Linked DNA regions of Homo sapiens. The protein of the gene in region 1 purifies or fractionates together with the protein of each later gene. This does not show direct contact. Each region holds a gene or a part of one and is shown in the gene's direction. Other genes may lie near its edges.

Region 1 (2,629 bases):
TCCTGTGTGTGGGCGGAACATAGTCCAGCTGCTCTATAGCAAGTCTCAGGTGTTTGCAGTAAGAAGCTGCTGGCATGCACGGGAACAGTGAATGCCAAACACTTAAAGCAATTCGATGTTTAAGTATGTAAGTTCTTTTTTTTTTAGACAGCGTTTCGCTCTTGTTGCCCAGGCTAGCATGCAATGGTGTGACCTCGGCTTACTGCAACCTCCGCCTTCCCAGATTCAAGCGATTCTCCTGCCTCAGGCTCCCAAGTAGCTAGGACCAGGTGCGCGCCACCACGCCCGGCTAATTTTTGTATTTTGTATTTTTAGTAGAGATGGGGTTTCACCATGTTGGTCAGGCTAGTCTCGAACTCGTGACCGCAAGCGATTCACCCACCTCAGCCTCCCAAAGTGCTGGGATTACCGGCTTGAGCCACCACACCCGGCACATCTTCATTCTTTTTATGTAGTAAAAAGTATAAGGCCACACATGGTTTATTTGAAGTATTTTATAATTTAAAAAAATACAGAAGCAGGAAAACCAATTATAAGTTCAAGTGAGGGATGATGGTTGCTTGAACCAAAGGGTTGCATGTAGTAAGAAATTGTGATTTAAGATATATTTTAAAGTTATAAGTAGCAGGATATTCTGATGGAGTTTGACTTTGGTTTTGGGCCCAGGGAGTTTCAGATGCCTTTGAGAAATGAATGAAGTAGAGAGAAAATAAAAGAAAAACCAGCCAGGCACAGTGGCTCACACCTGTAATCCCAGCGCTTTGGGAGGCTAAGGCAGGCAGATCACTTGAGACCAGCTTGGGCAACATGGCAAAGCCCCATCTCTACAAAAAACACAAAAATTAGCTGGGCATTGTGGCGCACACCTGTATTCCCATCTAGTCAGGAAGCTGAGATGGAAGAATTAATTGAGCCCACGAGTTCAAGGCTGCAGTGAGTCGTGATTGTGCCACTGCACTCCAGCCGGGGTGACAGAAGAGACCTTGTCTCGAAAAGGAATCTGAAAACAATGGAACCATGCCTTCATAATTCTAGAAAGTTATTTTCAACTGATAAATCTATATTCACCCAAATAATCAAGGGTGAAGGTAAAATAATACATTTTTAGACAAGCAAAGACTCAGGGGTTACCTCCATGTGCCCTTTTTAGGGAAGCTGTTGGAGAAAATACTCCAGCAAAATGAAGGAGTACACAAACCAGAGAATGACATGAATCCAGCAAATAGGATCCAACACAGGCAATATTCCAGCTATGGAGCTAGCTTTAAAAAGGAACAGTAAAAATATTAATCGGTTAGCTGGGTGGAATGGCCCATGCCTGTAGTCCCAGCTACTCAGGAGGCTCAGCAGCAGGACGACTTGAGCCCAAGAGTTCCAGACCAGCCTGGCCACCTTAGTGAGATCCCTTCTCTTAAAAATAATAACTTATTGCCAGATTTGGGGCATTTGGAAAGAAGTTCATTGAAGATAAAGCAAAAGTAAAAAAAAAAAAAAAAAAAACAAGGGGAAAGGGTTGGTTAGGCAATCATTCTAGGGCAGAAAGAAGTACAGGATAGGAAGAGCATAATACACTGTTTTTCTCAACAAGGAGCAGTATGTACACAGTCATAATGATGTGACTGCTTAGCCCCTAAATATGGTAACTACTCTGGGACAATATGGGAGGAAAAGTGAAGATTGTGATGGTGTAAGAGCTAAATCCTCATCTGTCATATCCAGAAATCACTATATAATATATAATAATGAAATGACTAAGTTATGTGAGGAAAAAAACAGAAGACATTGCTAAAAGAGTTAAAAGTCATTGCTCTGGAGAATTAGGAGGGATGGGGCAGGGGACTGTTAGGATGCATTATAAACTGAAAAGCCTTTTTAAAATTTTATGTATTAATATATGCATTCACTTGAAAAACTAAAAAAAAACAATAATTTGGAAAAACCCATGAAGGTAACTAACGGAAGGAAAAACTAAGAGAATGAAAAGTATTTGCCTCTGGAAAGAACAACTGGCAGGACTGTTGTTTTCATTGTAAGACTTTTGGAGCCATTTAATTGTACTTAACCATTTTCATCTATTTCTTTAATAAGAACAATTCCATCTTAATAAAGAGTTACACTTGTTAATAAGTGCTGGCCTCCTGTTGTTCTTTGTACACCCCACACAAAATTTCAAAGAAACTTTGATGGCAATATATCTCCATGGTCAGCTTAAAAATAGAGAAAGGAAAACATAGAATTAGCCAAGAGTCACACAAAACAAAGATCAGTTGTTTGTTAGGAAACAATCAAAATCAAGTCTCACTTTTTCCAGATTGGCTTATGGAACAGCACTGTAAGGTGATAACTTGGGGCAAACATGTAAATAATAAAACATATGTTTTAAATATTCAGGTTAGCACATTTTATGTTTCTGTGAGATTAAAATTGTGTGTGACATACCCGCTTCCTTAAAGGCAATGTTTCTGAAAATGTTGTACCTGCTATTCCTGAATCAGGGATGGGTCCCAGAATCTGCCTTTTAAACATCTCAGATAATCTGAAGCCTGCTTAAGTTTGTAAGGCACTGCTTTTGCACTCTAAGGAAGAAAAAAACAAGTTTTAATTCCCGTCTCTAGAACATCTCAGTGAA
Region 2 (3,500 bases), on another chromosome or scaffold:
ATGGGAGTGCAGATAGTTCTTCAATATACTGATAACATTTCCTTTGGGGTGTACCTAGCAGTGGGATTGCTGAATCATATGGTAGTTTTATTTTTAGTTTTTTGAAGAACCTCCATACTGTTCTCCATAGTGATTGTGTTAATTTATATTCCCACCAACAGTGTACAAGAGTCTACTTTTCTCCACATTCTCACCAGCCATTTGTTATTGCTTAGTTTTTTTGGTTAAAAGCCATTTTAACTGGGGTGAGATGATATCTGATTGTAATTTTGATTTACATTTCTCTGATTATTGATTTTGAGCACCTTTTCATAAACCTATTTGCCATTTTTGAGAAATATCTGTTTAGGTCATTTGTTCATTTTAAAATCAGATTATTAGATTTTTCTTATAGAGTTGTTTGATCTCCTTATATATTCTCATTATTAATAACTTGTCAGATGGATAGTTTGCAAATATTTTCTCTCATTCTGTGGGTTGTCTCCTCACTTTGTTTATTGTTTCCTTTGCTGTTCAGAAGTTTTAAACTTGATGTAATCCCATTTGTCCATGTTTGCTGTGGCTGCCTGTGCCTGTAGGGTATCACTCAAGAAATCATTGCCCAGACCAACGTCCTGGAGAGTTTCTCCATTGTTTTCTTTGAGTAGTTTCATAGTTTGAGGTCTTAGACTTAAGTCTTTAATCCATTTAGATTTTATTTCATTCATTTGCATATGGATAACCAATTTTCCCAGCACCATTTATTGAGGAGCCTGTCCTTTCCTCAATGTATGTTTGTGGCAGCTTTGTCAAATAAGAGTTCACTGTGAATGCATTGATTTGTTTCTGTGTTCTCTATTCTGTCCTATTGGTCTATATAACTGTTTTTATGCCAGTGCCATGCTGTTTTGGTTACTATAGCTCTGTAGTATAATTTGAAGTTAGGTAAAGTGATTCTTCTAGTTTTGTTTGCTTTGCTCAGGATAGCTTTGGCTATTCTGGGTCTTTTGTGGCTCCATATACATTTTATGATGTTTTTTCTATTTATGTGAGGAATGACATTGGTATTTTGATAGGGAATGCATTGAATCTGTAGATTGCTTTGGGTAGTATGGACGTTTTAACAATATTGCTTCTTTCAAACTATGAACATAGAATATCTTTCCCTTTTCATGTGTGTCCTGTTCAATTTCTTTCATCAGTGTTTTATAGTTTTCGTTGTAGAGATCTTTCATTTTTTTGGGTTAATTCCTAGGTATTTTATTTGTAGCTATTGCAAATGGGATTACTTTCTTGATTTCTTTTTCCAGTTGTTTGCTATTGGAATATAGAAATGCTACCGATTTTTGTATGTTGATTTTGTATCCTGAAACTTTACTGAATTTATCAGTTCTAGTAGTTTTTTAATAGTGTTTTGGTTTTTCCAAATATAAGATCATACCATCTACAAACAAGGCTAATTTGACTTCTTCCTTTCCAATTTGGATGCCTTTTATTTCTCTCTCTTGTCTGATTGCTTTAGCAAGGACTTCCAGGACTATGCTGAGTAACAGTGGTGAAAGTGGGCATCCTTGTCATATTCCAGATATTAGTGGAAAGGCTTTCAATGTTTCCCCATTCAGTATGTGGGTCTGTCATATGCAACTTTTATTGTATTGGGGTATGTTCCTTCTATACCCAGTTTTTTTTAGGGTTTTTATCATGAAGTGATGTTGAGTTTTATCAAATGCTTTTTCAGCATGAACTGAAATGATCATATGATTTTTGTCCTTCATTCTGTTGATATGATGTATCACATTGATTGATTTGCATATGTTGAACCATACTTGCATTCCTGGGATAAATCCCACTTGGTCAGGATGAATAATCTTTTTAATGTATTGTTGAATTTGGTTTGCTAATATTTTGTTGAAGAGTTTTACTTCTACATTCATCAGGAATATTAGCCTGTAGTTTCCTTTTTTTGATGTGCCTTTGTCAGGTTTTGGTATCAGGCTAATACCGGCCCCATAAAATGAGTTTGAAAGTATTCCCTCCTCCTCTATTTTTCAGAATAGCTTGAGTAGGATTGGCATTAGTTCTTCTTTAAATGTTTAGTAAAATTCAGCAGTGAAGCCATCAGGTTCCAGGATTTTCTTTGTTGGGAGACATTTTTATGGCTTTGATCTCTTTATTTGTTACTGGTCTATTTAGTTTTTGGATTTCTTCATGGTTCAATCTTGGTAGGTTGTATATGTCTAGGAACTTACCCATTTATTCTAGATTTTTCCAATTTATTGATATATAGTTACTCATAGTAGCCACTAATGATCATTTGGATTTCTGTGGTATCAGTTGTAATGTCTCCTTTTCATCTCTGATTATATTTATTTGAGTTGTCTTTTTTTTTTTTTAAGTCTGGCTAAAGGTTTGTCAATTTTATTTATCTTTTCAAAAAACAAAAAGGTTTGTCAATTTTATTTATCTTTTCAAAAAACAAACTGTTTGTTTCCTTGACTTTGGTGTTGTTTTCTTCATTTCAATTTTACTTCTTTCTGCTCTGATCTTTATTATTTCTTTTCTTATAGTAATTTTGGTTTTGGTTTGCTCTTGCTTTTCTAGTTCTTTTTTTTGTTTTGTTTTTTTCAGATGGAGTCTTGCTCTGTTTCCCAGCCTGTAGTGCAGTGACACAGTCTTGGCTCACTGTAACCTCTGCCTCCTGGGTTCAAGTGATTCTCCTGCCTCAGCCTCCTGAGTAGCTGGGATTACAGGTGTGTGCCAGCATACCTGGCTAATTTCTGTATTTTAGTAGAGATGAGGTTTCACCATGTTGGCCAGGCTGGTCTCAAACTCTTGACCTCAAGTGACCTGCCTGCTTCATCCCAAAGTGCTGGGATTACAGGTGTGAGCCACTGTGCCCAGCCACTTTTCTAGTTCTTTAACATGCATCATTAAGTTGTTTATTTGAAGTTTTTCTACTTTTTTGTATGTAGGCACTTATAGCTATAACCATTCCTCTTAGCACTGCTTTCACTGTATCGTGTAGGTTTTGGTATGTAGTGTTTCTATTATCATTTGATACAATACACTTTTATGTTTCCTTCTTAATTTCTTCATTGACCCACTGGTGATTCAGGAACATATTGTTTAATTTCCATGTGTTTGTACAGTTTCCAAAATTCCTATTGTTACTGATTTCTAGTTTTAATCCGTCATGGTTGGAGAAGATACTTGATATAATTTCAATTCTTTTGAATTTTTTAAGACTAATTTGGTGGCATAACATATGATCTATCCTTGGGAGTGATATATGTGCTGGGGAAAATGTGTATTCTGCAGCCATTGTATGAAATGTTCTGTAACTATCTAATAGGTCCATTTGGTCTGTAATGCAGATAAAGTCCAATGTTTCTTTGTTGATTTTCTGTCTGGATGATCTGTTCGATGCTTAAAGTGAGGTGTTGAAGTCTCTAGCTATTAATTTATTGGAGCCTCTCTTTAGCTCTAAAATTTACATATCAGAGTGCTTCAGTGTTAGGTGC
Region 3 (3,500 bases), on another chromosome or scaffold:
GGAGTTTGAGACCAGCCTGACCAACATGGTGAAACCTCGTTTCTACTACAAATACAAAAAATTGGCCAGGCTCAGTGGCTTCCGCCTGTAATCCCAGCACTTTGGGAGGCCAGGGTGCGTGGATCACCTGAGGTCAGGACTTCGAGACCAGCCTGGCCAACATGGTGAAACCCCATCTCTACTAAAAATACAAAAAAAAAATGAGCCAGGCATATTGGTGGACGCCTGTAATCCCAGCTACTTGGGAGGCTGAGACAGGAGAATCACTTGAACCCGGGAGGAAGAGATTGCAGTGAGCCGAGATCATGCCGCTGTACTCCAGCCTGGGTGACAAGAGTGAGACTCCATCTCAAAAAAAAAAACCCAAAAAAAAAAAAAATTAGTCAGCCGTGGTGGTGGTTCCCTATAATCTCAGCTGCTTGGGAGGCTGAGGCAGTAGAATCACTTGATCCCAGGAGGTGGAGGTTGCAGTGAGCTGAGATCATGCCATTGTACTCCAGCCTGGGCAACAAGAGTGAAACTCTATCTCAAAAAAAAAAAAAAAAAAAAAAAAAATATATATATATATATATATATACACACACACACACACACACACACACACACACACGTACACATATATGTATATATGTGTATATATGTACGTATATATGTATATATACACATACATATGTGCATCTATATACACATATGTGCATCTATATACACATATGTGTGTATCTATATGCGCATACATGTGTGTATATACACAAACTGTACACATACGTGTGTGTATGTACACATACGTGTGTGTGTGTGTGTGTGTGTGTGTGTGTGTGTGTGTGTATATAATCGAAGCCCCTATGTACTCCTCCCTAGTAACATCCCCTCCCCATCCCCAGAGGGAACCACAATCCATAATTTGGTGTTTGTCATTCCTTGTATTTATTTATATTTGTACTACATAAATATGGGTATTTGTTTGTATGTTTTTAGACTTTATATTAAGGTATTCTTCTGCCTGCAGCCTGCTTGTTTTTGTGAGCTTCATTCCTCTGAGTAGTTCTGGTTTATTCATTTTTACAGGGCTTCTTTGTTTCTCTTTCTAGGAACACCATAATGCGGGAGCTTGCCCCACAGTTCCAGATTCCATGGTCCATCCCCACGGAGGCTGAGGACATTCCCATTGTTCCCACCACATCTGGCACTATGTAAGCAAAAGCAAAAAATCTGGAGTAACCTACTTAAGACCCATGGGATTCCTTAAGCCAGGCTAATGGTTACTTCCTGACCCCACACTATCTGACTAACGGAGCCTAGGCCTCTTATACACAGTCTTCTTAACTCCACTTATATTCCCCCGCCGTTTTTTTTGTTTTGTTGTGTTTGTTTTTGAGACAGAGTCTAGCTCTGTTGCCCAGGCTGGAGTGCAGTGGCATGATCTCGGCCCACAGCAACCTCCACCTCCTGGGTTCAGGTGAGCACATCTGGCTAATTTTTGTGTTTTTAGTAGAGATGGGGTTTCATCATGTGACCAGGCTGATCTTGAACTCCTGACGTCAAGTGATCCACCCGCCTCGGCCTTCCAACGAGCTGGGATTACAGGCATGAGCCACCATGCCCAGCCTCCATTTATATTCCTAATCTCAGTTCCCTTTTCTTTTTCTTTCTTTTTTTTTTTTTTTTTTTTTTTTGCGACAGGATCTGGCTCTGTCTCCCAGGCTGGAGTGCAGTGGTGCACTCATGGTTCACTGCAGCCTCTATCTCCTGGGCTCAAGTGATGCTCCCACCTCAGCCTCCCAAATAGCTGGGACCACAGGCGTGTGGCACCATGCCTGGATAATTTTTTTTCTTTTAACTTTTTTTATAGAGACAGACTCACCCTATGTTGCTCATGCTCACCCTATGTTTCTCCTGGGCCTGAGTGATCCTCCCACCTCAGCCTCCCAAAGTGCTGAGATCACAGGCCTGAGCCCTGCTCAGCCCCTCTGTTTTTTTGACATGTCAAGTAATGTGATGACAGCAGGTGGGATGGGGGTGTGGGAGAGGCTCTGATAACATTTATGATCTTAGGATGGAACTTCGTTGTGTCATTGCAATTATTCGTCATGGGGATCGTACTCCCAAGCAGAAGATGAAGATGGAAGTGAAACACCCAAGGTCAGAAGAGTGTCCTAATTTACATAAATAGGTTTTTGTGAGGAAGACTGCATGGGGGGCAAGTCCTGGAGGCTTTGACTGTCTCATGCCACACTGAAGCTTCTCGTTACTTCTTCAGGTTTTTTGCTCTGTTTGAAAAACATGGTGGCTACAAGACAGGGAAATTAAAACTCAAGCGACCTGAGCAGCTCCAGGTAAGGTAGTGAATCTGACCAGGAGGAACAGTGCCATGAGAGAGATAGAGGATATGGCATTGGGAGTCTTGATAAAAGACTAGGATGGAAAGGTAACTGTCTAGGACTTGGCCTTCTGCATGGATACCTTATTATTTCCTCTAGGAGGTGCTGGATATCACAAGGCTGTTGTTGGCTGAACTGGAGAAAGAACCAGGTGGTGAGATCGAGGAGAAGACTGGAAAACTAGAGCAGCTGAAGTCTGTACTGGAGATGTGAGAAAGGGGATAGCAAAAGGGAGCCAATAACAGTGAGAATTGGGGTGCTGGAACAGAACATAAACTGTGACTTTATCCTGCAGGTATGGTCACTTCTCAGGTATAAACCGGAAGGTACAATTGACTTACTACCCTCATGGAGTAAAAGCTTCTAATGAGGGGCAAGGTAAGATGTAGTCCCCCTTACCACTACCTCTCAGATCTTGTGTTCTTTTTATGTTTTTTGTCCATCTTCTTTCCCCACAAGATCTCTTTTTCTTGAGCCTATAGATGACCTTTACCCCAAATTACATCTCTGGTCTCCTCAGAAGACCTAAGGTTTAGATGTTCCCACTATTTTTCTTAGATCTAGACCATTCACTGCCTCTTATTCCTTCAGATCCACAGAGGGAAACTCTGGCCCCATCTCTGTTGCTGGTACTGAAGTGGGGTGGAGAACTGACTCCTGCTGGCCGTGTTCAGGCTGAGGAGCTGGGGCGAGCTTTTCGCTGCATGTACCCTGGAGGACAGGGTGAGTGTTTTGGGGAGTGAACGCATAGCAGGGCCAGGATAAAATGATTAGAGAGTAAGTTGGGGAAAATGAAGGGACAGAGACAGTGGGGGAATGAATATTTTTTCTTCCACGAGTATTTATAGCAGTCCATTTGTGGTCCCCCACCTTTGTCCCCAGGTGACTATGCTGGCTTCCCTGGTTGTGGGCTGCTTCGTCTCCATAGCACTTTCCGCCACGATCTCAAGATCTATGCCTCTGATGAGGGTCGTGTTCAGATGACTGCTGCTGCCTTCGCCAAGGTGCATACTACAGTTCTGTAGTCCCAGTTTCCATTAGGTAGAGAAGCAGAGAGTTTGGAGAACCAGTTGGAGCATTTCAGGGTGCTTGTAGGCCAACTCAGAGAAGTTTCTGCATGTA
Region 4 (3,500 bases), on another chromosome or scaffold:
CCCGACATCATCATGAACTTGCTGCTCTCCTACCGCGATGTGCAGGTGCGTGGTGTTCAGAGAGGCAGTAGGGCAGCTGGCATTTGAGGTCAGACAAACCCAAGTTCAGTTCCTGGCTGGGCCACTTGCTCACTGGTGGCTTTGGGCAAATTATCCAATGTCTCTGAGTGTTGGCCTCCTTATTTGTTAGAGAGGATGAGCATGTCGCTGCCTCCTGGGGCAGTTGTGGGGTTGGGAACGCCCAGCATGGGGCATACAGTAGGTTCTCCCTGTGAGGTGTGTCCGCTGGGCCTGAGGGAGGCGTGCAGAAGATGGTGGCTGGGTGGGATGTCAGGAGTGGGACAGGACCCTGGCTCAAGGTTCCTTGGGGCCTGGAGGCCCATGATGCCAGTGCTTGCCGTTCCCTGATGCAGGACTACTCGGCCATCATTGAGCTGGTGGAGACGCTGCAGGCCTTGCCCACCTGTGATGTGGCCGAGCAGCATAATGTCTGCTTCCACTACACTTTTGCCCTCAACCGGTGAGTGGCAGAGCAAGGGTTAGGTCATAGCCACATAAAGGTTTCCGAAACCTAGGTCTCTGCGTGCAAAGCCATTGCTGTCTGGGATCACTGCTGTTCGGGGAATTTGCTGACCGGGGTCACTGATGTCAATAGGTCCCTGTTGTTCTGAGTTACTGCTGCCTGGGTCGGGGTGGGGGAGGTGGTGCTGCCTGTGGTATGGTCACCGCTGTCCAAGATCACTGCTCCTAAGAGTCATCGCATCTAGGAATCACTTCCATCTGAGGTCACTAGAGAGGTCAGTGCTGGCCAGGGTCATTATCATTTTGAGGTCATTATTGTCAGGCCCCTGGAAGGGTCCCTGCTGGTTCAGTGTCTAGAGGTCCCTGGACAGAGTAGGCCAGGGCCATCAGGGAGGGCCTGAGCCCATCTTTTCCCTAGGAGGAACAGGCCTGGGGACCGGGCGAAGGCCCTGTCTGTGCTGCTGCCGCTGGTACAGCTTGAGGGCTCTGTGGCGCCCGATCTGTACTGCATGTGTGGCCGTATCTACAAGGACATGTTCTTCAGCTCGGGTTTCCAGGATGCTGGGCACCGGGAGCAGGCCTATCACTGGTAAAGAGCACAGTGAGTGGCCGGTGGGCTAAGCTGTGAGATGAGGGGTGGTGCTGTGGGCATCAGTCCAGCCCTGTGCCCCCTACCCCCACCCCAGGTATCGCAAGGCTTTTGACGTAGAGCCCAGCCTTCACTCAGGCATCAATGCAGCTGTGCTCCTCATTGCTGCCGGGCAGCACTTTGAGGATTCCAAAGAGCTCCGGCTAATAGGTGAGCACAGATCCTGGCTCTTGTCTCGTCACCCACAGGGGTTCCGAGGGGCCTGGGAAGAGGGCAGGGAGAGAGCACACTGGGCAAGAGCTAGGATGAGCTCATCCATTTTGGACTGTCCTGCCCATACCCACACCTGGGTCCTCATACCTGTTCTGGGCCCTCAGGAGCCCTCAAACCCACAAATGTTCCCAAACTCACATCTGCGTGTCCATTACATCCTGAATTCCACATATACCTGTGCCTGAGCTCCTGTTCCCACCCGAGATCTTGCCATACTCAATGCCATACTCATATCTATGTTCATGTCCACACTCGGGCCCACAGAAATGGTGGGCCTCACTCACCCCTGCACCCACACTCACTGGAGCCCATGCCTCTCTCCCCCAGGCATGAAGCTGGGCTGCCTGCTGGCCCGCAAAGGCTGCGTGGAGAAGATGCAGTATTACTGGGATGTGGGTTTCTACCTGGGAGCCCAGATCCTCGCCAATGACCCCACCCAGGTGGTGCTGGCTGCAGAGCAGCTGTATAAGCTCAATGCCCCCATATGGTAGGTGGCCCCCTCTGCATTCTTGGCCTGACCTGGGCTGTCAGCTCCTGCACCTATGTCCATTGGCATGCTAGACTGAACCCTGAGCCAATGACCTGGCTGCTTTTAGACCAGTGCCCGTGGCACCCCATGCCAACGTTCTAGCTATATCCAGGCCAGTTTCCTCTCCCTGGCAGTGCTGGTTGGTGCCTGGGCTGAACTGAGGATGTGGCTTTGCATGCAGGTACCTGGTGTCCGTGATGGAGACCTTCCTGCTCTACCAGCACTTCAGGCCCACGCCAGAGCCCCCTGGAGGGCCACCACGCCGTGCCCACTTCTGGCTCCACTTCTTGCTACAGTCCTGCCAACCATTCAAGACAGCCTGTGCCCAGGGCGACCAGTGCTTGGTGAGGCCTGTAGGGGTGGTGGACCCGGGAAAGGGGTAAGCCCCTTCTGACTGACCCCACTCCCCAACTGCCTGCAGGTGCTGGTCCTGGAGATGAACAAGGTGCTGCTGCCTGCAAAGCTCGAGGTTCGGGGTACTGACCCAGTAAGCACAGTGACCCTGAGCCTGCTGGAGCCTGAGACCCAGGTGAAGTCGCTGCTGAGGCCCCTCACTCACCTTTGCTAGGACCTTTTCTGTGGAGCCTTTCTCCCATCCTCAGACCCCTCTCCTGTCACCAGCACTCCCCATCACACCCCATTTCTTCTTGCAGGACATTCCCTCCAGCTGGACCTTCCCAGTCGCCTCCATATGCGGAGTCAGGTGATAGGCGGGACCTGGGGTGACTGGAAAGACGGGAGGTGAGGGTCGCTGCCACCCAGCCTGACGCTTACTGGGTTCTTCATCCCTTCCCAGCGCCTCAAAGCGCGACGAGCGCTGCTGCTTCCTCTATGCACTCCCCCCGGCTCAGGACGTCCAGCTGTGCTTCCCCAGCGTAGGGCACTGCCAGTGGTGCGCAGCCTTTCATGGTCGGGGTACTCTGAGGGCCAGGATGCCCGGGGGGGAGTGGGGGAAAGAAAGGGACGACGTCCGTTGGATGCTCCGGCTTAGGTGGGGACCAAGATGCCCCTCCCGCGGGTCTGACCTCCCCCACCTTCAGGTTCTGCGGCCTGATCCAGGCCTGGGTGACGAACCCGGATTCCACGGCGCCCGCGGAGGAGGCGGAGGGCGCGGGGGAGATGTTGGAGGTGAGGACGCGGGACTGGGAGCTCGCGGAGGGCGAGGGGCCGCGGGCCCTGCTGAACTCCCATCTCACCCCGCGCCCGGCAGTTTGATTATGAGTACACGGAGACGGGCGAGCGGCTGGTGCTGGGCAAGGGCACGTATGGGGTGGTGTACGCGGGCCGCGATCGCCACACGAGGGTGCGCATCGCCATCAAGGAGATCCCGGAGCGGGACAGCAGGTGCGGTGCGTGGCAGCGCGGGTGGGGCTGAGGGCTCGCGAGGGCCGAGTGAGCCGGGCCACGAGCGGAGCGGCTCCTGTGGGCGGGGCCTAGTGGGCGGGCTCGTAGGACCTGAGAGTTCGAGCCCTGTGGACTGGGCCCGTGGGCGGAACAGCCAGGACCGTGCGGGCGGGATTGAGGTCTGGAGGGTCCTGTGGGCAGGGTAGTAAGGGTGGGGAAGGTCGGAGAGGGCTTGTGGGCGGG
Region 5 (4,212 bases), on another chromosome or scaffold:
GAGAGGATTGCTGCACGGGGTATGACTGAGGTTTTTTTTTTTTTGGTTTAATTATTTTCAGGATCAAACTATCTTCCCTCCACGTTTGCAAATTCAGCTGATTCAGTTTTACCATTAGCAACTGACATAGAGGTCCTGGAGTTAAAGTATTCCTTCAGTTTCAGTTCTAGTGCAGCCCAACCCTCCCAATTTGTAGATGAAACAAGTGTGGCAGAGAAAGGGGAAATAGTAAATTACAGCAGAGTAAATCTTCAGGAGCTGAGATGTCAACTCTCTCAGTTCAGAGTTGGAGCCATTGCGGCTTCCTGCTGGTCGTTGGGGAAAATCGCACATTTACTCATTTAAAATATTTTGTAGGCACCTACTATATACTAGACGCTTTGCTAAGAGGCCTTGTCTTATGTGTAAATATGAAGGATCAAACCCTCAATTAATAGTGAGCAGTGATAAGCAACCACAAAGACAACTTCTAAACCACGGAGATTTCCAAAACTTTGGTCTACCACTTGTACAAATTCTACTAAAACTTCGTGAGATATTAACAAATGACAAAGTGAGTTCACCTGAATGTCACACCAGCCAAATTCGAAATGGTCAATAGGAGGTTCAACAAAAAAGCAAGCGACTTTGATAATCCCGAGACGGAAGGACGGGACCATCTATTCATTTTTGTGCATGTTTGAGCAGGGAAGTTGGAAGTCCACCTGCTCGGGCTGCGAGAGCCCTGGGACCGCTGCGAGGGAAGCAAGCCGAGGCGTGCGGGGCTCCCCAGGGAGAGGCCAGCCCAGTTCGGGAGGATCCCGGGGATGCCGCGTTCCTCGGTGGAATCTGGCTCTCCCGGGCGCTCCGGGGGAAGCCCAGGCCGACCGCCCCCGGCCCACCCGGCATTGAAACCCGAGGCTCCTTGGAGGATTGCGTAAAAGCCTCTCCCTCCCCCGTCTGCTCGGTGGCATGTTTCTAAAATTCCCATCTACACAACATAAACAGGAAACGTGCAGCAAAAGCCCTGTCGATGCAAATTCCTTGCTTCCAACCGAGGGCGGGAGAATTTCATCTTTGGTGGTGGTGGGGAGCAGAGGAAGCAGCCAGCTTTCCAAGTGACCCCTCAACTCTCCACATCCCTTCTTCCAAATCCAAACAGAATAGAGAAGGCGGAAGGAAGGACCCCCTGCTTTAGGAAAAATAGGGAGGCAGAGGGGGCCGTGAAGCAGCATCCAGGCCTCAAAGTGAACCACCTCCAGGGGCCGCGGTGGCGGCGCGTGGCGGGAACACGCCCGACCGCCCACTCCCCCAGCGCAGCAGTCCGCGAGGCCCGCGGAGGGTGGAGGTGGGCTCGCCGCCCGGGCTTGGGGCAGCCGAGCCAGCGCGGGTGGGGGCGGGGGAGGAGCGGGCACTAGGCGCCGCGCAAGCGCAGAGCGCGCCTCGGTTGTCAAACATGGCTGAAGCGCTGCCGCTGCCGCTACTGCCGCTGCAGGGAAAATGCTGAGCCCTCCCGGGCCGGGTGGGCGGCGGCGGCGAGGGCGGCGACGGGGACCCGCTTCCCGAGCGCGGCGGCGGCGGCCATGGCCCGGCTGGCTGACTACTTCATCGTGGTAGGCTATGACCACGAGAAGCCAGGTAAGGGTGTGGGGCGGCACCGCCCCCGGGCCTCCCCGCCCCCCGGCCGCTGTCCAGTGGGCTCCGCGGGGCCGGGCGTCGGGGACGGGCGTCGGGGAGGGCCAGGCCGAGTCTCGGAGGAGCGGGCGGTCGGCGTCCGGCCTTCTCGGCTGGGCTGAGCCTGGCGGTGGGCGTGGGGGGGCCGGCACGACGGTAGGGGGAGGGAAGACGCCGCGTCTGCCCAGCCCCTGGGCGCACCCGCTGGGCGGGCCGGAGGCGAGTTGGGGTCTCGCGACCCTCCCGCTGGAGGCTGCAGGGTACCCGGGGCAGAGAGAGCCCTGAGATTGGGCCCAGGACCGCAAGGCTGGGAGGGCGGGAGCCAACTGTGCTAAGTTCCTCGGGGATAAACTTCTGCCCTGCATCCTGAGTGAGTAACCAGTGACGCAGGGGGTTGTCCTCTCCGAAAGGAAGTGCTGAGAGTCCAGTGCTAACTCACCCCTGTGCTGTTGGGGGCCTAGTGACCTCCCCAAGGAACGCGTGGTACCAGGGAAGGGGACAGGATTCTTTGCACTTTTACCCCTTTCTAGGAAATGCTCCCTATTCTTTCAGGACAAATGTGACGGTCACTTCACAGTGACATGACTTGTCTTTTAACTAAGGACAGCCAGCTGACCGCTGAAGGTGATCTTGTTTCACTTTAATGTGTTTTCATTGTTCTTTTTATTTGTCACAGAATTTTCGTCGTAAGGAACAATTGGGCAAATGCATTGTATTTTACACTTTAATTGACGGACTTCCACAACTTAAGAGAATTCAGGGTTCATGCACGTTTATTTCTGTATTTGTATTCTCTTGTATTACTATGTAGCTAAGCATAATGTAATAACAAATTGAGCTGGGAAACCACTTCTATTTTAGGGCAATTCTAGTCCCACATTTGCAAGGAATTTGAGATATCAGCTCTACAGCCCCTTCATTTTTCAGAGATGCTGAGATTGTGTTTTCCTGATGGTTACAGCCATTGGTAGCTCAGAATACCATTGTTCTACCCACTCTTGGTCCACTCTCTCTTTCATTATTCCTCTCCTAAGAACTTCCTCTCCTTTAGTGGGAACCTTTCATGTTCTTTTCTCTTTCACCAGTCATGACCTGATTGAGGTCAATTGTTAAAGAGAAAGTTTAAATGTTTAAACTTCTGGATCCAAAATTTTATTTCCTAGTAATTTGGCATAGTCTGATGTTTCTTTTCTATCAAGATTAAGTGTGGGAAATCAGTTTTTTAACCTTTAGTTTTTAGTGACATTGTTCCGCCTCCCCCCCTCCCCACTTTTAAACAATTTTTTTTTTTTTTTTTTTTGAGACGGAGTTTTGCTCTGTTGCCCACGCTGGAGTGCAGTGGTGCGATCTTGGCTCACTGCAACCTCTGTCTCCCGGGTTGAAGCAATTCTCTGCCTCAGCCTCCGGAGTAGCTGGGATTTACAGGCGCCCGCCAACACGCCCGCTAATTTTTGTATTTGTAGTAGAGACGGGATTTCACCATCCTGGCCAGGCTGGTCTTGAACTCCTGATCTCGTGATCCACCGGCCTCGGCCTCCCAAAGTGCTGGGATTACAGGCTTGAGCCACCACGCCCGGCCAACAATGTTGAAACAATAACAGACTTGCAAAAAAGTTGCAAGAATGGTACAAAAAATTCTACCCGCCCCCCAACAATTTGAGAGGAAGCTGTTGACCTGATGCCCTGTCATCCCAGAATACTTTAATGTGCATTTTCTGCAAACAAGAATGTTCTCCTACATGATCACAGTGTAATAACCAAAACAGGAAATGGATAGTGATACAGTACTCCATCTAGTTCTCAGACTGGTTCAAGTTTTGTTGATTGTGCTAGTAATCTCTTTACTGGCAAAAGGATCCAGTTTAGCAATATGTGTTGCATTCATGTTATGTCTCTTTTGTCTCCCTCAATCTGGAACATTTCCTTTATCTTCTCCTGACTTTCATGACCTTAACATATTTAACAATTACAGGTCAGTCACTTTGTAGGCTGCCCCCTCAATTTGGGATTGTCTGTTCCTTCATGATTAGATACATACGAATATGCACGTGGGAAGGATATCACAGAAGTGATGCTCACTGCATCCTGTCAGGTGGTGCACAATTTCACTTTGTTTCATTGTTGGTTATTTTTACTTTGATTACTTGATATAAGTAATATCTGCGAGGCTTCTCCACTGTAAAGTTAATACTTAATTGTTTTTGCCATGTACTTTGAAACTATGTAAATATCTTGTTCCTCACTAAACTCTTAATCATTTATTGACATCTACATGGAGTCTGTGTGTGTGTGTGTGTGTGTGTGTGTGTGTGTGTGTGTGTTTAGTGGATTATATTCTGTTACTATTTGCCTTAGTCTATTCGGAAAAAGTCACTAGCCCACCTGCCCGAAGCACTGGCTTGAGTGGGAAATAGGAGAGTCTAAGCACATCCAGCCGAAGTGAGACCAGAAAGGGGAGCTCGCGGATTATATTCTGTTACTATTTGCCTTAGTCCATTCGGGCTGTTATAACAAAAATACCTCAAACTGGGTGGCTTATAAACAATAGAAATTTATTTT
Region 6 (3,500 bases), on another chromosome or scaffold:
ACCTCTGAAGTTAGCCCTGTTCGATCTCTGCTCCTTGTCAGACTACATTAAAGAATCTAGATGTCTTCTACACATTGTCCTTCTCTTCCTCACAGTGTCTGCCTTGATGACCAAATCAAAAATTGTTTTATTGCATTACTGCCTGAGTGTGTGATATTTTAGCAGAATCTGAGCCATGAGCTTCTTAAGTAAAGCCTTCTACTCACTGGTCACAGTCTAGCTTCTCTATGGCTTAAGAGTAAACCTGTTTGATAAAGCTATAAATGGCATTTATTCCTTCCTTCTTGCTGCTTAGAATCTCACTGAGTTTTTCTTCTACTCCAACTGAAGAAGGTGCCACATCTCACCTGTTGGTGGTTCTCACCTGGCTTTATATTAGCATCACTAAGGGGCTTTTACAAAACACTTGCTGAGACCCCATCTCCAGATTCTGATTTAACTGGTTCAGGGTGAGGTGTTACTATTATAAAAAACAAGCAAACAGAAATCCCTCCAGGGTATTGTAATGTGCAACCAGAGTTGAAAGCCCTTCCTGATGGAGTAAAGCTGCCATTCCGTTGTTTTACTGAACTTCTATTCTGGATCTCTGAAATCCACCAGCACGATTGAGGCTTTATTAGTGTGTCTGTCCCACAGCCCTGGTGAGGAGTAAGACAGAAGCTTGGTGAACCTTACGTGATATGAGATATGACCTGCTCCTGACAAAGGCCTGTACACCAATGCCGTGTTCACTCTGAGAGTCATTGTTTAATCAAGTGACAGAGGTTGAGTATCTGTTAATGTGGCACAGATACTGTGCTAGACGCCATGAGAACAATTTGACAAGGGCTTCATCCTTATGGAGGTTAGAGTTGATGACTCTGTTTTGGTTCTAGAAATGAATTCCTGTCCTGTGAGGATGCACCTGCTTGTCCCACAAGCAGGGCTGTCTTTGGTATACAGCTGGGCCCTACACCCTACTCTCCTGTGGGTAACATACTGTTCACTTCAACCTGCCCTGCTTGGCCAGATAATATTCATGGCTCAGATGAGGAATGACCAGGACCTTGACTTCTTCATCTACCAACCAGACTAGGTTACTCAGTAATACTAGTAGCATTGGTCGCCCCTGTGCCTTCTCTCTTAGTGAGCTTAGATGAGCCATGAACCTAGAGCCTAGAACTCTATTGGGCTGTCTGGTGAAGGGTAGACTTTAAAAGTTCAAGCCTAAAGGCAGCTGCAAATGGGCTGTTTCTGACCAGTTTTTTCTGACATACATCTCAGTCTCAACCTTAACCTTTTCACTCTAACTGAAGGCAGAGGAAGTAAGCATTGAGAAAATTCCATTAAGGAAGACGAAAGCTCGCCACCTTCCCTAAAGCCTGGGTGCAGTGAGGCCACAGAGACCACTTCCTGTCTCCCTTTCCCTGGGCCATTTTGTCTGCTAAGTCCTGGAGGCACTTCCCTCCCAAGTAGAGGTGAAGTCTCACCCCACCAGCTGCAGAGAGCGATTAAAGAGACCAAAGAAAACAGTTGAAAAAGAATACCAAAGTAGTAAGTGATCAAAAGGCTAGATCTAAGAGAGAGTTCTTTTCATAATTCCCCTACTCCTCATTTCTGTTGTCTAGGGCCTCACTAGATGCACTTGACCTATGTCCGTGTCCCTACCCCCTCATCTCCACAGAAGTCTGCAATATAGATTGCAGTAGGGTTGGCCATTTTTCAAGAACATTTTTCGCGTTCATTGAGAATTGACCTTCAGAATTGTGACTTATTTTTTCTTATCTCTGGAGTGATAGCAAGTAATCATTTTTTAAGAGTAGATTTGATTTTTCATACAACCAGAAATAATTCAGGATGTAATTTGGTGAATACCCTGTGTTGAGGTTGTAAATTTGATCTGAAGACAGTTTCCATGACAAAGTTCAGAAATACTTTGAGTAAAAGCAGCATTCATACATAATGTTGAGCACCTACTTTGACAGGCACTGCTCAGGGCACTGGGGATAAAGCAAGACTGGCATTCTATCTAGGGGAGAGGAGTTTACCAATTAACAAGTAATAAAACAACGAAAAATACTAAAGATGTTGCCAAAATAATACAATTTCTGGAAAGAAATACTCCGAAGAAGAATGGAGGAGGTGGGGAAGGGTGGAAGTGGCTGGTTTAGAGAGGGTGATTTAAGGTAGGCTCTGAAAAGGGGGCACTTGGGCAGAAGCCTTAGTTCTGTGAAGCACAAAGCCATGTCATGGTATGTTCTGGTAGTGGCAGCAATAAATGAAAGTTGCTGAGGGAGGAACAAGCTTGACGGGTTTCAAAAACACCAAAGGAGCAATGTAGGAGGTGCGGAGTAGAGGAGAGGGCAAATGGTAGGAGATGAGATTGGAGATGGAGGCTGAGATTCTGAGGCTTTTGGGAAGCAGCTGGGGGATGAGCCTTGCCGGAGTTAGTGTTTTGCCTTTTAGGGACATTATTTTGAAGGTAAAGACTAATTTGTATTTATGACTTAAGACACATGTTAGGCCAGTGTTAAAATGGGTGAAGGTGAGGAATAAATGCATATCCTTGAATATGCTTAGAATGTTTTTGCAAGAAGATCTGAGAAAGCAATGGCAGTGTTTCCTGGGTGATAGGTTGTGACACTGCTGTCAGGTCAAGAGAGGAAGGGGCACTTACATGTTAATCTCTTCTTTAGTAGTATTTGATTTTTTATCATATGCATGTATTTTTAGAAGCTTTTTCATAATATACCATATGTGTGTATATGTTTAAGGTTTGATTTTTTGCAGAAAGAGTATAGCTGCTGTGTTTGTGAAAACACAAAGAGATCTTTAAACCAGTCTCTCCTCTGAGATAATTTGATAAGTGATCGGAAGCTGCTTGGCATTTAGATTTCTGTGAAATCCAAGCATTGACACTTGAGTGTTTTCAGTGAGTGAAATGTGCTCTAATGTATAACACTTAATATTTTAATATTAATATTTTATTAAAATAAAATAACAGGTATTTAATATTAATATTTTAATAGATAATTTTTCTATTTCAAACTACATCTTTTGCTCTTTTCCCTAGGCAACAGAAACAGACACAAAAATCAGAGTGTGCACCCGGGCCTACCATCTGCTTGTGAAAAAACTGGGCTTTAATCCAAATGACATTATTTTTGACCCTAATATCCTAACCATTGGGACTGGAATGGAGGAACACAACTTGTATGCCATTAATTTTATCCATGCAACAAAAGTCATTAAAGTAAGTGTAGGCATGTTCTCTCCCAAGTCATGGCTCAAATTTGTCCCATGGGTCTAATGAATGGTTAGAACTAACTTATATATTTATTGGCTGATGAAATGTTAACATTCTTAGTTAGTAAATTGTTTTTCTGAAATGTAGGAGACCTTATTTTTTTTCTTTAGTAGAGTTTTAACTTGTGTAACAAACAGACTGGAGAACATAACAGAGCCTGATGAACTCGCTTGAACCCAGGAGGGTGGAGGTTGCATTGAGCTGGGATCACGCC
Region 7 (3,500 bases), on another chromosome or scaffold:
CATTTATGTTTCAGGGTTCTTCTAATACAGAATTTAAGTCAACCAAAGAAGGATTTTCCATCCCTGTGTCTGCTGATGGATTTAAATTTGGCATTTCGGAACCAGGAAATCAAGAAAAGAAAAGGGAAAAGCCTCTTGAAAATGATACTGGCTTCCAGGCTCAGGATATTAGTGGCCGGAAGAAGGGCCGTGGTGTGATTTTTGGCCAAACAAGTAGCACTTTTACATTTGCAGATGTTGCAAAATCAACTTCAGGAGAAGGATTTCAGTTTGGCAAAAAAGACCTCAATTTCAAGGGATTTTCAGGTGCTGGAGAAAAATTATTCTCATCACGATACGGTAAAATGGCCAATAAAGCAAACACTTCCGGTGACTTTGAGAAAGATGATGATGCCTATAAGACTGAGGACAGCGATGACATCCATTTTGAACCAGTAGTTCAAATGCCTGAAAAAGTAGAACTTGTAACAGGAGAAGAAGGTGAAAAAGTTCTGTATTCACAGGGGGTAAAACTATTTAGATTTGATGCTGAGGTAAGGCAGTGGAAAGAAAGGGGCTTGGGGAACTTAAAAATTCTCAAAAACGAGGTCAATGGCAAACTAAGAATGCTGATGCGAAGAGAACAAGTACTAAAAGTGTGTGCTAATCATTGGATAACGACTACAATGAACCTGAAGCCCCTCTCTGGATCAGATAGAGCATGGATGTGGTCAGCCAGTGATTTCTCTGACGGTGATGCCAAACTAGAGCGGTTGGCAGCAAAATTTAAAACACCAGAGCTGGCTGAAGAATTCAAGCAGAAATTTGAGGAATGCCAGCGGCTTCTGTTAGACATACCACTTCAAACTCCCCATAAACTTGTAGATACTGGCAGAGCTGCCAAGTTAATACAGAGAGCTGAAGAAATGAAGAGTGGACTGAAAGATTTCAAAACATTTTTGACAAATGATCAAACAAAAGTCACTGAGGAAGAAAATAAGGGTTCAGGTACAGGTGCGGCCGGTGCCTCAGACACAACAATAAAACCCAATGCTGAAAACACTGGGCCCACATTAGAATGGGATAACTATGACTTAAGGGAAGATGCTTTGGATGATAGTGTCAGTAGTAGCTCAGTACATGCTTCTCCATTGGCAAGTAGCCCTGTGAGAAAAAATCTTTTCCGCTTTGATGAGTCAACAACAGGATCTAACTTCAGTTTTAAATCTGCTTTGAGTCTATCTAAGTCTCCTGCCAAGTTGAATCAGAGTGGGACTTCAGTTGGCACTGATGAAGAATCTGTTGTTACTCAAGAAGAAGAGAGAGATGGACAGTACTTTGAACCTGTTGTTCCTTTACCTGATCTAGTTGAAGTATCCAGTGGTGAGGAAAATGAACAAGTTGTTTTTAGTCACAGGGCAGAAATCTACAGATATGATAAAGATGTTGGTCAATGGAAAGAAAGGGGCATTGGTGATATAAAGATTTTACAGAATTATGATAATAAGCAAGTTCGTATAGTGATGAGAAGGGACCAAGTATTAAAACTTTGTGCCAATCACAGAATAACTCCAGACATGAGTTTGCAAAATATGAAAGGGACAGAAAGAGTATGGGTGTGGACTGCATGTGATTTTGCAGATGGAGAAAGAAAAGTAGAGCATTTAGCTGTTCGTTTTAAACTACAGGATGTTGCAGACTCGTTTAAGAAAATTTTTGATGAAGCAAAAACAGCCCAGGAAAAAGATTCTTTGATAACACCTCATGTTTCTCGGTCAAGCACTCCCAGAGAGTCACCATGTGGCAAAATTGCTGTAGCTATATTAGAAGAAACCACAAGAGAGAGGACAGATGTTATTCAGGGTGATGATGTAGCAGATGCAGCTTCAGAAGTTGAAGTGTCTAGCACATCTGAAACAACAACAAAAGCAGTGGTTTCTCCTCCAAAGTTTGTATTTGTTTCAGAGTCTGTTAAAAGAATTTTTAGTAGTGAAAAATCAAAACCATTTGTATTTGGCAACAGTTCTGCCACTGGGTCTTTGTTTGGATTTAGTTTTAATGCACCTTTGAAAAGTAACAATAGTGAAACTAGTTCAGTAGCCCAGAGTGGATCTGAAAGCAAAGTGGAACCTAAAAAATGTGAACTGTCAAAGAACTCTGATATCGAACAGTCTTCAGATAGCAAAGTCAAAAATCTCTCTGCTTCCTTTCCAACGGAAGAATCTTCAATCAACTACACATTTAAAACACCAGAAAAGGGTAGGTACTTTGTTGTTAAAGTTAAGCACAATTTTTCTTTCTTTTAATGTTTAGCTTGATGCAGACTCTTTGTGGGATACTAATGTTGGGATATAAACGATGCTTTGTGAACACCCCCAAAATATTTGAGCAATTTTTTTTCTCCCTTAATAAGTTCACGGTGAGGTTTCAAAGAGCAAGAGAACTTAGTTAAAGACATTTCAGTAACTGGAAGATACTTCTATCATGCTAGGGCAGAGCAAAAGAACTTGGTACAGTGTACGGACTCATGCTTGAATCATGCGCATTAACGTGAGTCTTTTTTTAAAGTGTTCATTTTCATTTGTTCTGTTTCTTTTGTCACTCAGAAAACATGATATTGAGGCTGGGCACGGTGGCTCACTCCTAGAATGCCAGCACTTTGGGAGGTTGAGGTGGGCAGATCACTTGAGCTCAGGAGTTCGAGACCAGCCTGGCCAACATGGTGAAACCCTGTTTCTACTGAAAATACAAAAATGAGCCGGGCATGGTGGTGCGTGCCTATAATTAGCAGCTACTCAGGAGGTTGAGGCAGGAGGATCGCTTGAGCACAGGAGATGGAGGTAGCAGTGAGCTGAAATCATGCCACTGCACTCCAGCCTGACTGAGTGACTGAGTGAGACTTTGTCTCCAAAAAAAACAAAAAACAAAAAACAAAAAAAAACATGATATTGAGATGTTCTCATTTTATGTGTTGTATGTCAGTCTTGCTCATGTATTAAATGAGCAAAGAATGAAACTACAGGGATAAATGAATATGTAAGACAGTCAGATTGGTGGTATAAATTGAGGGATTCTGGCTTTTTATGTTTTAAAAGCATATTCATTTTGTTTCCTAAAATGTTAAAAAATGAAATATTCTTTATTTTCTAGGATTTAATTTTAGCCTTTTTAAATCTAATCCCATGGCCTTTTGGACTAGCACCCCTTCCTCACAGCCTGAGAGCAAAGGTATAGAACTAGCATTCTCAGTATGAGATAACAGCAGTTTTTAGCAGCTGGGTAGCCCTTAGCAAAGTATTAATTACTGTGGCTGTATGAAATGAAGTACTTACCACTACAACATGCATGTTAAAGAATGCCAGTTTAAGCAAAGTACCTTTTGACTGGTGGCATGACACCCTTGTTGGTTTGTTTTTTAAAATGTAGTGGGATGCTGATTTGTAATGTACTTCATTGCTCTGCTATTTCAGGTCTGCTCAATGAAGACCTATGTTTTATCTAATGTTTATCTTTAGCCACTA

The links.
Region 2: the proteins of DHFR (region 1) and MYO3B purify together in Homo sapiens (affinity purification with mass spectrometry; one large-scale study listed by BioGRID and IntAct). This does not show direct contact.
Region 3: the proteins of DHFR (region 1) and PPIP5K1 purify together in Homo sapiens (affinity purification with mass spectrometry; one large-scale study listed by BioGRID and IntAct). This does not show direct contact.
Region 4: the proteins of DHFR (region 1) and MAP3K6 purify together in Homo sapiens (affinity purification with mass spectrometry; one large-scale study listed by BioGRID and IntAct). This does not show direct contact.
Region 5: the proteins of DHFR (region 1) and SBF2 purify together in Homo sapiens (affinity purification with mass spectrometry; one large-scale study listed by BioGRID and IntAct). This does not show direct contact.
Region 6: the proteins of DHFR (region 1) and MTR purify together in Homo sapiens (affinity purification with mass spectrometry; one large-scale study listed by BioGRID and IntAct). This does not show direct contact.
Region 7: the proteins of DHFR (region 1) and RGPD5 purify together in Homo sapiens (affinity purification with mass spectrometry, with the first as the bait; one large-scale study listed by BioGRID). This does not show direct contact.

What each region holds. Positions count from the first base shown.
Region 1 is NC_000005.10:80,625,726-80,628,354, reverse strand, and holds the end of DHFR (dihydrofolate reductase), read left to right. Parts: 3' UTR 1-2,129; downstream 2,130-2,629.
Region 2 is NC_000002.12:170,184,647-170,188,146, forward strand, and holds part of MYO3B (myosin-IIIb), read left to right. Parts: intron 1-3,500.
Region 3 is NC_000015.10:43,576,709-43,580,208, reverse strand, and holds part of PPIP5K1 (inositol hexakisphosphate and diphosphoinositol-pentakisphosphate kinase 1), read left to right. Parts: intron 1-1,088; coding exon 1,089-1,190; intron 1,191-2,052; coding exon 2,053-2,139; intron 2,140-2,257; coding exon 2,258-2,333; intron 2,334-2,477; coding exon 2,478-2,587; intron 2,588-2,673; coding exon 2,674-2,756; intron 2,757-2,969; coding exon 2,970-3,101; intron 3,102-3,260; coding exon 3,261-3,382; intron 3,383-3,500. UniProt on the Homo sapiens protein: Bifunctional inositol kinase that acts in concert with the IP6K kinases IP6K1, IP6K2 and IP6K3 to synthesize the diphosphate group-containing inositol pyrophosphates diphosphoinositol pentakisphosphate, PP-InsP5, and bis-diphosphoinositol tetrakisphosphate, (PP)2-InsP4.
Region 4 is NC_000001.11:27,360,462-27,363,961, reverse strand, and holds part of MAP3K6 (mitogen-activated protein kinase kinase kinase 6), read left to right. Parts: coding exon 1-45; intron 46-413; coding exon 414-520; intron 521-940; coding exon 941-1,111; intron 1,112-1,208; coding exon 1,209-1,321; intron 1,322-1,711; coding exon 1,712-1,871; intron 1,872-2,094; coding exon 2,095-2,257; intron 2,258-2,334; coding exon 2,335-2,442; intron 2,443-2,566; coding exon 2,567-2,616; intron 2,617-2,709; coding exon 2,710-2,805; intron 2,806-2,953; coding exon 2,954-3,041; intron 3,042-3,123; coding exon 3,124-3,257; intron 3,258-3,500. UniProt on the Homo sapiens protein: Component of a protein kinase signal transduction cascade. Activates the JNK, but not ERK or p38 kinase pathways.
Region 5 is NC_000011.10:10,291,420-10,295,631, reverse strand, and holds the start of SBF2 (myotubularin-related protein 13), read left to right. Parts: upstream 1-1,412; 5' UTR 1,413-1,562; coding exon 1,563-1,617; intron 1,618-4,212. UniProt on the Homo sapiens protein: Guanine nucleotide exchange factor (GEF) which activates RAB21 and possibly RAB28. Promotes the exchange of GDP to GTP, converting inactive GDP-bound Rab proteins into their active GTP-bound form.
Region 6 is NC_000001.11:236,847,292-236,850,791, forward strand, and holds part of MTR (methionine synthase), read left to right. Parts: intron 1-3,052; coding exon 3,053-3,232; intron 3,233-3,500. UniProt on the Homo sapiens protein: Catalyzes the transfer of a methyl group from methylcob(III)alamin (MeCbl) to homocysteine, yielding enzyme-bound cob(I)alamin and methionine in the cytosol. MeCbl is an active form of cobalamin (vitamin B12) used as a cofactor for methionine biosynthesis.
Region 7 is NC_000002.12:109,835,805-109,839,304, forward strand, and holds part of RGPD5 (RANBP2-like and GRIP domain-containing protein 5/6), read left to right. Parts: intron 1-14; coding exon 15-2,238; intron 2,239-3,129; coding exon of another isoform or gene 3,130-3,233; exon of another isoform or gene 3,234-3,500.